Linked DNA regions of Homo sapiens. The protein of the gene in region 1 interacts with the protein of each later gene in a pairwise test. Each region holds a gene or a part of one and is shown in the gene's direction. Other genes may lie near its edges.

The links.
Region 2: the proteins of MS4A4A (region 1) and LPAR3 interact in binary tests that used the Homo sapiens proteins (3 or more experiments, as listed by UniProt).
Region 3: the proteins of MS4A4A (region 1) and SERTM1 interact in binary tests that used the Homo sapiens proteins (3 or more experiments, as listed by UniProt).

Annotation. Positions count from the first base shown.
Region 1 is NC_000011.10:60,290,543-60,294,293, forward strand, and holds part of MS4A4A (membrane-spanning 4-domains subfamily A member 4A), read left to right. Parts: intron 1-1,682; coding exon 1,683-1,842; intron 1,843-3,751.
Region 2 is NC_000001.11:84,891,131-84,894,881, reverse strand, and holds the start of LPAR3 (lysophosphatidic acid receptor 3), read left to right. Parts: upstream 1-1,675; 5' UTR 1,676-1,866; intron 1,867-3,751. UniProt on the Homo sapiens protein: Receptor for lysophosphatidic acid (LPA), a mediator of diverse cellular activities. May play a role in the development of ovarian cancer. Seems to be coupled to the G(i)/G(o) and G(q) families of heteromeric G proteins.
Region 3 is NC_000013.11:36,671,706-36,675,456, forward strand, and holds the start of SERTM1 (serine-rich and transmembrane domain-containing protein 1), read left to right. Parts: upstream 1-2,314; 5' UTR 2,315-2,479; intron 2,480-3,639; exon of another isoform or gene 3,640-3,722; intron 3,723-3,751.

The DNA of each region.
Region 1 (3,751 bases):
TATCTTAACTACTTCATTCACATTTACATTATATATTTCTTATTTATTATATTTGTCTTTCTTTTTTAAAAGAAATACTTATTTTATAATTTGTAATTTTGTACTTTTTATTTTACTATTTTTCATAATTTTAAGTATATACATTACTAAAGTTAAATTAATGTTCTAAATAATTAATCTTTTCATTTTAACGTTTCTCCTCTATCTTTCTCTGAAATTCACCCCCCTTCTTCTGACTTTAATCAGTTTTATTGTTAGATAGCTAATAATTTATTTCCATTGATGTATCAAAAATAAATACAGGATGATAATTTTTTCAGAGAAATCTTAATTTTTTTCTCAACATAGCAAATTTGGAGTACAACAATTTTTTTTTCATTTATGGTACCAATAAAAGGGCACACATCTCAAAACGAGACTTTTATAGGGGCTCAGTGGAGAATAAGTGGTATCAAAATTAACTATTACTTGAAGGATATTAGCAAGCTTCATTTCCCTAAAAATTTATGGAAGTTGATCATGAAACACCTGAATATGAATTCAACTACATAGATAAAAATTTCCATGTGACTTTAGCCTATCTCTACATGACTTGGTTGGAGTTATTATACTGAGGACAGAAAGAGATATAAGAGTAATATGTTTGTGCTTAGATTCTCAAAAAATGATTTGATGGATCCTTGCTATGCACCAGCAAGTTAGGATTTAAAGCAATGTAATAGGACAAGAGATTTAGATTTGTGGTGCCAAGAATATGACTGAGAGCCATAAGTTTCATTCCCAAAGTTCAGAGTTTGTGGCACAAAATACAAGGTTACATAAATCACACTCAGCAAGGAGGAACATGGGAAGATTTTCAGCCCTGTGAATTTAACTGTGCTCTGATTAGAAAAGGAGGAACTATGCAATACTATACAATAAATTGGAAGGCAGATTAGTTTGTGTAGTTTATTACTATTATAAAAGTAATCCTTCAGCTGGGTGCGGTGGCTCACACCTGTAATTCCAGCACTTTGGGAGGCCGAGGCGGGCGGATCACAAGGTCAGGAGATGGAGACCATACTGGCCAACATGGTGAAACTCTGTCTCTACTAAAAATACAAAAATTGGCTCAGCATGGTGGCACGCGCCTGTAGTAACAGCTACTCGGGAGACTGAGGCAGGAGAATCGTTTGAACCCAGGAGGCAGAGGTTGCAGTGTGCCGAGATCGCGCCACTGCATTGCAGCCTGGTGACAGCGTGAGACTCCATCTCAAAAAAAAAAAACAAAAAAACAAAACTAAAAAACAAAGTAATCCTTTGTGGGTAAGTGGCTGTAATCAAGGGATTAGGCAGTAAGAGGGATAGAAATAAAATCTGAGCCGACTTGGAATTGGAACTTAAAGAAATTTCTCTAATTTTAGAGGTCCAACAGGTTTACCTCGCTTCTGTCAACATGTCCCTCTCTGCAGGATTTTCTAGCATCTTGATATCATATGACATTTAGTTTCTCTCCCACCTGCCCCCGCCCCACACACACACTTAATGTGTTGCCTATTCCACTTCCCCAGCTCTAACAGCTATTATGATATGGGAAGAGAATGTAGACCAGATTCTGTCCTTAGGGAGGAACCTGCCCCAAAGTGTCATGTCCTCTTTTGCCATTTCCAGGACATCATACTAAATTACATTTCTTATTGTAGCACCTTTTCTGCTGCCATGACAACCATGCAAGGAATGGAACAGGCCATGCCAGGGGCTGGCCCTGGTGTGCCCCAGCTGGGAAACATGGCTGTCATACATTCACATCTGTGGAAAGGATTGCAAGAGAAGTTCTTGAAGGGAGAACCCAAAGTCCTTGGGGTAAGTTGCAAATCTAGGGGAAGACCAATGGTGTTGCAAACTCATATTTCATAAGACCTAATGCCAAATACACTGTCCCACTAGCCTCATAATACAACAGCCAACCCTCACGACGTCAGTAATTACTTTTCAGGCTCTTCATCTGAAAAACTATATAGTATTCTGTCACAACATGCTTCCAGTTGAGTTATATTTAAAATATATTGAGTTCAGATCTATTCTAGGGTTGTGGGTCATCCATGATAATTGTATTTAAACTCAGTGTGGAAAAGCAGCAAAATAAAAGGCCACCTATGCACTACTAGCTGACGCCCCCTTTACAGGCCTTCCTGATAGCTGACAGGCACATATTGCTACTATTTCTTTCTGGCACCTTTTCTTAGCCCCCTGCTCAGAGGATGAAAAATCTATCCTCTGAGCATTTCCATCTGGAGTCTCAGATGAGCATGCCCAAAAGAAATGAAGGATTAAAAGAATGACAGAATAGGGCAGGTGAAAGGATATTAAATATAGGTTTATCACTAGCCCAAGCTTCAAACCACGGGAAAATGTCACTGTGGATATTCTGGATCCTTTTTTCACATTATTCATTTTCTGGAGGGGGGGAAATATAGTTATTTCTCATAAAATATGTTATTTATGTTGGCACATACTAGGTTTGTTTGTTTATTTATTTTTAATTTTATTTTTTGAGATGGAGTCTCGCTCCATCATCCAGGCTGGAGTGCAGTGGCACAATCTGGGCTCACTGCAACCTCCGTCTTCCGGGTTCAAGAGATTCTCCTGCCTCAGCCTCCTGAGTAGTTGGGATTACAGGCATGAGCCATCACACCTGGCTAATTTTTGTATTTTTAGTAGAGACGGGGTTTCAGCATGTTGGTCAGGCTGGTCTTGAACTCCTGACCTCGTGATCTGCCTGCTTCAGCCTCCCAAAGTGGGTTTATTTTTTAATGTATGAATAATTATTTTAAAATATACTGTATGTTTTAGAGCAGTTTTAGGCTTAAAGAAAAATTGAGAGCAAAGTACAGATCTATCCCATATGCCCCTTGCCCCCACAAATGCATAGCTTTTTAATTATCAACCTCCTCCACCAGCATGTAACCTTTGTACCAATTGATGAACTACATTGACACATCATTACTAAAAGTACACAAATCACAATGGGGTTCATTCTCTGTGTTGTGTGTTCTGTGGGTTTTAACACAAGTATAGTGATATGAATCTACCTTTGTAGTATCACATAGTATCCCACCAATCCCTGGCAACCACAAATCTTTTATTGTCTTCATAGTTTGCCTTTTCCAGAAAGTCATACAGTTGGAATTGTACAATAGGTGTTTTTTTTAGATTGCGTTCTTTCACCTAAATACATGCATTTAAATTTCCTCCATGTTTTCTTATGGCTTGATAGCTCATTTATTTTTAGTACTGAATAATATTTCATTGTCTAGAAGCACCACAGTTTATTTATGCATTCACCTACTGAAGGACATCTTGATGGCTTCCCAACTTTGGCAATTAGGAGTAACATTGCTATAAATATCTGTGTGCAGGTCATGTGTGGACATAAGTTTTTCAACTCATTTGGTTAAGTATGATTAGTGTATTGTAAGTAAGAGTACGTTTAGTTTTGTAAGAAACTGCCATACTGTCTTCCACATGGCCTTGTCACTTTGAAGATTTCAATCAACAGTCAATGAGTTCCTGCTGTTCTGCAAAATCTCCAGCAATTGGTAGTGCCAGTGTTCTGGATTTTTACCATTCTAACAGGTGCTAGTGGAATCTCACTATCATGTTAATTTGCATTTCCCTTGTGACATAAGATGTGGACCATCTTTTCATGCGTTTCTTTACCATCTCTATATCTTCTTTCGTAAGGTGTCTTGTTAAATTCTTTGGCACATTT
Region 2 (3,751 bases), on another chromosome or scaffold:
CAACATAATGCAACATAATGTGTTTCCCAAGTGCCTTTGTTAGTAAGTTGTTTGGATTCAGAACAGATTTTCCCAGCAAAAGAAGGCTCTTAGTGGTGTTTACAGTCTAGCCTGCAACATCTTACTCAACATACTACACCTTTGTTGCGTCAAGTATTCAGTAAATGCTGGTGGTTGAGTATTTCTGTGTTTACCAGGTTGCCCTTCAGCACCGTGATGTTTGAGCTGAGCTGTTCTCTCCCTTGACAGAGAGAGCTCTTTCCGACCCCCGCCCCTCCGAGACGGAGTCTTGCTCTGTCGCCCAGGCTGGAGTGCAGTGGCGCGATCTCGGCTCACTGCAACCTCCGCCTCCCAGGTTCAAACGATTCTCCTGCCTCAGCCTCCAGAGTAGCTGGGATTACAGGTGCGTGCCACCACGCCCGGCTTTTTGTATTTTTAGTAGAGACGGGTTTTCACCATGTTTGCCACCGAGCTTTTTTATCATATGCAAAGCTTCTGCTTGTAAAAGTAAACACATGATCTTTCTTTAGCCCTAGCTTCGCAAGTTGTACTTCTCTCTACACAGTTCAACTGCAAGACACCGCAATAATTTTCTGAACACTTAGATGAAACAATAATTTTCACATGCTGATGAAAACTTAGCTGTAGCCCCGGGGAGGTTTGAGGCACATTAGGCTATTATGGTCTATAGGATAAGACCCACGGAGTAAGGGACGTAACCTTATTAAAACATCCTCTGCAGAGAAAACAGAATCTCTTTGATGGTAGGGGACAGATTATCTAACAGGTTGTTTGCAAGGATGAGGTTCCTAGCTGGCACACAGAAGGGCGCAGTATTAATGGTGAATGCAAGATGAATGAATGAACGGATGGATGGATGGCAAAGGGTCACAGGAAGACATCTGGGCACACAACTCTCATTGCTTCCTAAGGGCCTGAAGTCTGAGTGGGAAGGACTTCACCTCACAGTATTTCCTTTTTGTAAGGTCACCAGGAAAGCACAACTTTGAACATTTCTGTGACTTCGTTATTGCTTTGCAGAATTCAGAGAGAACAATGCCTTCATGACATTTGTTTTACTTTGCATCTTTCTTCTTTACTAAAGGTGGGTCAGTGGAGGTTTTATATTTCAGCTTTGAAAAACAAAGTATCCAGGACTATTTGCCCCAGGAGGCCAAGAAACCTCTTACAAGAACCTTAAATATTGTTGGTTGCCTCTGGGGGCTGTCCGCACCCTCGGGTAGCTTTGGGGTTGAGGTTTCCAGCGTTAGGTCGGGCTTGGAGTAGAGCCTGCCTCCCACGGGGGTGGTGGGTGTGGGCTGCACTTCCCGCAGCCACTTCAAACAAATCTCTGAGGACAGAGGGGCAGAGGGACTGCGTTCTAATACGGAGCTCCGAGGTATGGCTCCGTGAGGCTTGTGGGTACTAGCGGTCCTTTAGTGGGCGCTTTTCCCTCTCGGGGCCGGCCGACCACCCACCTGGGGACGATCCCAGGCAGGAACGCGTCTGCAAGAGCGCTGCCCTCCCGCGGCTCGCACGGGCCCCTTTGAGCGCAGCTCGCGGCCTTGCAGGTTGGGGACGCTCTCCAGTGGGAACGTCGAACGCACCCGGCGGGGCGGGGCGGGGCAGGGAGGGGCCGCTGTCCCTAGGTCCCTCCCTCGCACCGCCAAACTTTCCTTTGGCTCTGGACGCGTCGCAGGGGTCGCTGGAGAGGAGGCGCTCCGCCCGCCCGCCGCGTCCTCCGCTGCTTCTCCGCGCCCGGCTGGAGCCCGGCGCCCGGTCGCCCCGTCGCGCTCGACCCCGAGGGCATGCGGCAGCCGCAGGGGCCCCCGCTCCCGGGCTCGGCGGCGCGGGTGAACGTGAGCGGTGAGTGAGGGTCCGGGCGCAGGGAGGGTACCCCGAGCCGCAGTCACCAGGGCGTGCGTCGTGGGGAGGCCGGGGCGCAGCGGCGCCTGCAGGGCTCTAGCCTGCGGCTTTTCGGGGTTGCCTGGCGTGCAAGCCTGGGCTCCAGACCCACTCCAAACCCCGGGACAAGACTCTCCCGGCGGGTGTATGGCACAACTTGCTCTTTTCCCACCTTTTTCCCCGCTAGGAGCAAAAAGCAATCTAGATGCAAAATCGGCGTTGCGTCCGCTGCTGAGGGCTGGCGGGCTGGGCGCAGAGGCCAGGAGAGCGCCGCACGGGTTGCGTCTGCCTTTGCACACGTGGTTCTTTCCAAACTCAGTCTCATTGCCATCGATGGTGATTAGGAAACTGGGGTTCTCTCGTGAAGCCTAGGGATATAACATTTTTCAGCCTCCAGTTACATCTGGTACTGTGCTGTGTCCGCTGGGGAACAGCTTGAACCATGTGCAGGCTTCTAGAGATTCGGGAACTAGTAACTAGCAACACTGTCGGGGTTGTTTGTTCAGGGTATGCCCCCTCACCACCACGAGACAAAAGTGCTTTTGTTCTGTAGCAGAGTTACTTTATTGCTTTCCCTCAACAAGTTGCAGCTACACAAAATTGCTTAGAAATTCCGCACGCATGTAATTTGAGGAGTGACTGTGAATATTGGAAACAATTTAGTCTTATTAAGGTAATCATTAAAATGGCCCTGAAAAGCATTTGTAGGTTAGTTTTTATTTATTTATTTATTTATTTATTTATTTATTTATTTATTTATTTTTGAGACACAGTCTCGCACTATCATCCGGGCTGGAGTGCAGTGGCGCGATCTCGGCTCACTGCAACCTCCGCCTCCCAGGTTCGAGCGATTCTCCTGCCTCAGCCTCCCTAGTAGCTGGGATTGCAGGCGCCCACCACCACGCTAGGCTAATTTTTTGTATTTTTAGTAGAGACGGGGTTCCACTGTGTTGGCCAGGCTGATCTCGAACGCTTGACCTCGTGATCCACCCTCCTCAGCATCCCAAAGTGCTGGGATTACAGGTGTGAGCCACTGCGCCCGGCTAGGTCAGTTTTTTAAACTGAGTAATTTCCACGAAATGTTTCCCCCGTAATTTGTTATTGTCATTACAACGCTTTTCTTCCTCCTTTTCCTCCGAAAGTAGCATTACCTGGTCTTGAGATGCCGTTTAGAAATAAAGGGCTTTCTCACGGTTCCAACTTAGTCTGTATCAGAGAATAAAGTAAATGTCAATTACAGACAGACAATCAATCTCCTCTTTACAAATTCCATGTACCGCACAACGTTTCATTAATGCATGGACTTTTGTATCGCTGAGAAGAGTTGCTGGATTTTCCATTGATCCATCAACAGTTGCTAACCCTGCTTTCCATGGGCAGTGGATCTGATATTTAGTGGCCTGAGTCCAGTAAACAGAGTTTTCCTCTTTTTGGGACAGAAGTGATACGGTTAGAAACACACACCTTGGCTCTGTTAACCCCAGGCTTGTCTAAACAAACTGGACTATACTAAAAAGACGAGCGAGCAAACCCTGCCAGTCAGAGTTGTGTACTTGAGATAAGCTTCCAGAGTTGTCTCTTGTGCCTTGAGACAGCAAGGAACTAGTTATCCTGTGGAGATCTGGACGTCTAACTATTTGGACAACACTTACATTGATTGTCACTATCATATAACTAAGAAAATAGGTCATTTTGGCAAAAATTTTTTCTTTGTCTTTAGAATTTGAAACTTTGAGGTTTTGATTTAATTACATATGACACTCCTCTTGTCTAAACCTTTCAATTGCATTTATCAACTACCACTCTTTTTTTTTTTATCAGATCAGACCTATTTTAGATATCTTGC
Region 3 (3,751 bases), on another chromosome or scaffold:
AAATTCAGGAAGCCAATCCAAGTGTGCCTGGAAGGAAGTAGTTCTCTGAATCCACCCTCTTATAAAATAGACACCGAGGGAAAGAAAGCTTACCTTACCTTGTCACCAAAGGTAAGACAAGGAAAAGAAAACTGCTATACCAGTCTAAATAAAAAGACTGCCCAGCAATCAACAGTTCTTTTCCCCTCTCTGACAACTGCAGGATGTTGGCAGGGTTTCTCAATAGACAAACTGTATTAGAATCATGTAGAGTATGAGCCGGGCACGGTGGCTCATGCCTATAATCCCAGCATTTTGGGAGGCCAAGGCATGCCAATCACCTTAGGTCAGGAGTTCAAGACCAGCCTGGCCAATATTGAGAAACCCCGTTTCTACTAAAAATACAAAAATTAGCTGGGCGTGATGGTGGGCACCTGTAATCCCAACTACTTGGGAGGCTGAAGCAGGATAATTGCTTGAACCAGGGAGGTGGAGATTACAGTGAGCCGAGATCATACCACTGCACTCCAGCCTGGGCGACAGAGCAAGACTCCTCACAGAAGGATCACATCAGGCACAGAAGGATCCACATAGAAAAGATTCACACCCACCCACAATTGCCCTGGAGAAGGAAGGGGAGAGACAAAACAAACAAACAAACATGTAGAGTATGAATGAACCAGACAATAGGGTTGGGGCCTAGGAATCTTATGCACAAAGAAATTTTGAGGACCACTGTTTTGAAGGTCAACAGTTCTAACTGCCCCCCCATACACCTTAGTGTTTCAAAAAGTGAGTTGTGAGAACAACCAGTGATATTCAGAATGATTTTAGCATGGAAGACTTATGCCTTCATTTCATTGTGCATTAAAATATTAAATACAACTGGTATCTCACAAACCAATAATTTCATAGATATTATTGCTTACGATGAAGCCAAGTAAAAATCTAAGGTAAAATTTACTAAGTGCATAATGGAGCAGACTGTAGATGGATGTAAGGTAACTCATGAGAATGGCACATGAACAGGTGAAATTCAGGAAGCCAATCCAAGTGTGCCCGGAGGGAAGTGGTTCTCTGAATCTGCCCTCTTGACAACACAGCTCATTCCATCCTCCTGCATTTTACATCAGGCACAGAAGGATCCACATAAGAGAGATTCACACCCACCCACAATTGCCCTAGAGAAGGAAGGGGAGAGACAGAGAGCCTTTACTTATGTACCACGGAGCTTCAGAGTTAAGCCAGGTGCCCCTGCCTATCTCTACGTGGAGAACAATTGAACATGGGTGGAAGTAGCAGGCTCCTAGGAGCCGGGCCCTGGTGGGTGGCAGTATACGTGCATGTGTTGGTGGTCACTGAGACTTGGGTGGCCTGATTCTGTATTGTGCATGATTTGCTTTTCTGGCCACTAATAGGTCTCACGGTGAAGACAGCAGAACCAGATGGAGTAGGGGCTCAAGGAACAGGTAGCCACACCAACACTTCCCAGGAGTTCAGCCCTTTACAGGCCACAGAGCAACAATATTGTTGAATGTCAGAGTGAAACAGACCGCAGCCACCAAGTGATCGAAGTCTCTCATTTTCCAGCTGAAAAACAGGAATACAGAGAGAGAGTCTTCTGGTCAAGGTAGCAGCACTGACTGGTAACTGAAGTTGGTCGGATCAGTTAAAGCCTCCTTTTCCGGAGTTCTGTTACGATATATGACTCTCTACGCCAGTTCCCTAGTAGGGACTCATGACTGACTGTCTCCCTGGCAATGACAGAAACTCCAATCCTATTCGACTCATTTAATGATTTGGTATAGGATTCAGAGGCGCACGCGGCGAAGGCTGAGCAAGGGCTGTCTGTGGTTAAGCTCATCACAGGATGAGGCCATGCCCCACGCAACTCAGTCAGAGCTGGGCTTGCGATGATGCACCCAGAGTAGTTGTTTTGGGTGGGGGCTGCGAGGAACTCATAAAAGATGTAAGAGGAGGAGAAAGTTGGCAAGAAGTGGATGCTTTCATCTGCAGAGAAAGGCCCCTGAGCCCTAAAAAAACTGCCCTCCTCCCCACTCCCCCCTCCTCCCCCCGACACACAAAAAAGTTCACCCACTACACCTGCCTTCCCCAGATGGGCTCCCTGCGCAACGCCTCCTCGTCCTCCGAGATTTTCCAATGGTGGCGCAAGCTCCTCCCTCGCCCGAGCTGGGCGCCGTCCTAGAGCCAAGCGCCCGCTAGAGCCGAGACTAGGGGGCGGTGAGGAGTGGGACCCGCTCGCGGCCATTGGTTGTGCGGCCAGGAGGGGCGGAGGGACGACGCGCGGGCTGTGCGGGGCCGGCAGCCCGGATCCACTCCCGCTGCGCCTGCTGTCCGCCGTGCGCCCAGACTGCGCGCCGCGCCGCTGCGCCCAACATTCCCGAGGACGGCTTCGCGGGCGCGTATCGTCCAGACCGGAGCACCGCCCCACCGCTAGCGCAGGAGACCTGCCGGGGAAGTCGCGTGTCCTGACCTGCAGGTCAGTGAGGGAAACTTGCAGGGTCCCGAGCTCTGGGGGTGAACTTGCCCTACGCGGAGAGCGCCCCACTCCTTGCCTGGGGCGGCCTCGGGTCCTGGAGGCGAGCCGCCTCCCAGACTCTCCCCCGAGATCTGGGCTCCCGGAGATGTGGCTCCTTTCTGAGAAACACCCCCAAATCTATCCCTTTTGAGGTGTCCTTACTGTCCCGAGAAGCAATCGCAGCCCGGCTCTCCGAGTCTTGGGGTGACTCCACGGGCTGCAGGAGGAGCCGCGAGGGGCCCTGAGTGCAATGTCCTTGGCCCCGTGTTGACCTGCCTCGGTCCCAGACACTGGGAACCGGGAAGGTCTACCCTCGCTCTGCAAGGTGGATTCCTCCATGCAAGTGTAGACAGTTCTACACTTTGCAGAGTGTGTCTAGGTGCCTTCTGTTTGCTTTTGCCTTTGTGGTGTGTGGAGGGTCATTCTTGGGTTTGTTTTGCTCCTGTCTGATTTTCTAGGGTCATTTGCGTCCCTTCTCGGGAACGGGGACTCGCCATGCGCACACTGACAGCTGGCTTTGCACCTGCTAAGGCGCTGGAGAGTCTTTTCGCCCGTCTTAGGGTGGCCCTAAATCCGGGGAAGTTTTATGTGGCGCTGAACACTTGCGTTTCCCAGGGGCGTTTTCCCTAGCTCCCGGAAACCCAGTAGGTAACTGCGCCAGCGACCCTTCCCCTCTTCCCGGGTCTGATGAGACACTGGAATCCTGCCTTTCCCTGTCGAGGTGTGCGAATGATGGGCAAATTGCTTCAGTTCTGATTTAGGAAAGGGATATGTAATGTGCCCTCCTCCAGGGAGCAGAGGGATTCATTCACAGAAATATCTTGTTGAGGACCAGGATTGGGGCTATGCCTGCCCGCTTTCCTCCACCAGATGCCCGGGCTCCATCGGACTTGGGTTTGATCTCAGACTCTAGAGATGGGGTCTGTTTGTTAGTGTCCTTCATTTCCTCTCCCTGTTAATTTTTCTTCGGAAAATGTTCTGCTAAAGTAAGTACTTCAGTGTTCTTTGTGGTAAATGATGGGCTCCGATGTCTAGAGGACGTCTCAAAGCCATCGCATTTGGTACCGTCTGCACTACAGGTGCAAAGGGCGGGGAAACTGACAGCGTTACTGTCCTGGGGCGGACCCGCGGGACTACTCCCTAAGACGTTTCTCCTAGGTGCCTTCTCCTAGGTGCTTCCAGGATTCATTGTTCAGACAACAGCCTGTCAACAGGAAAAGAGGCACAAGTGAC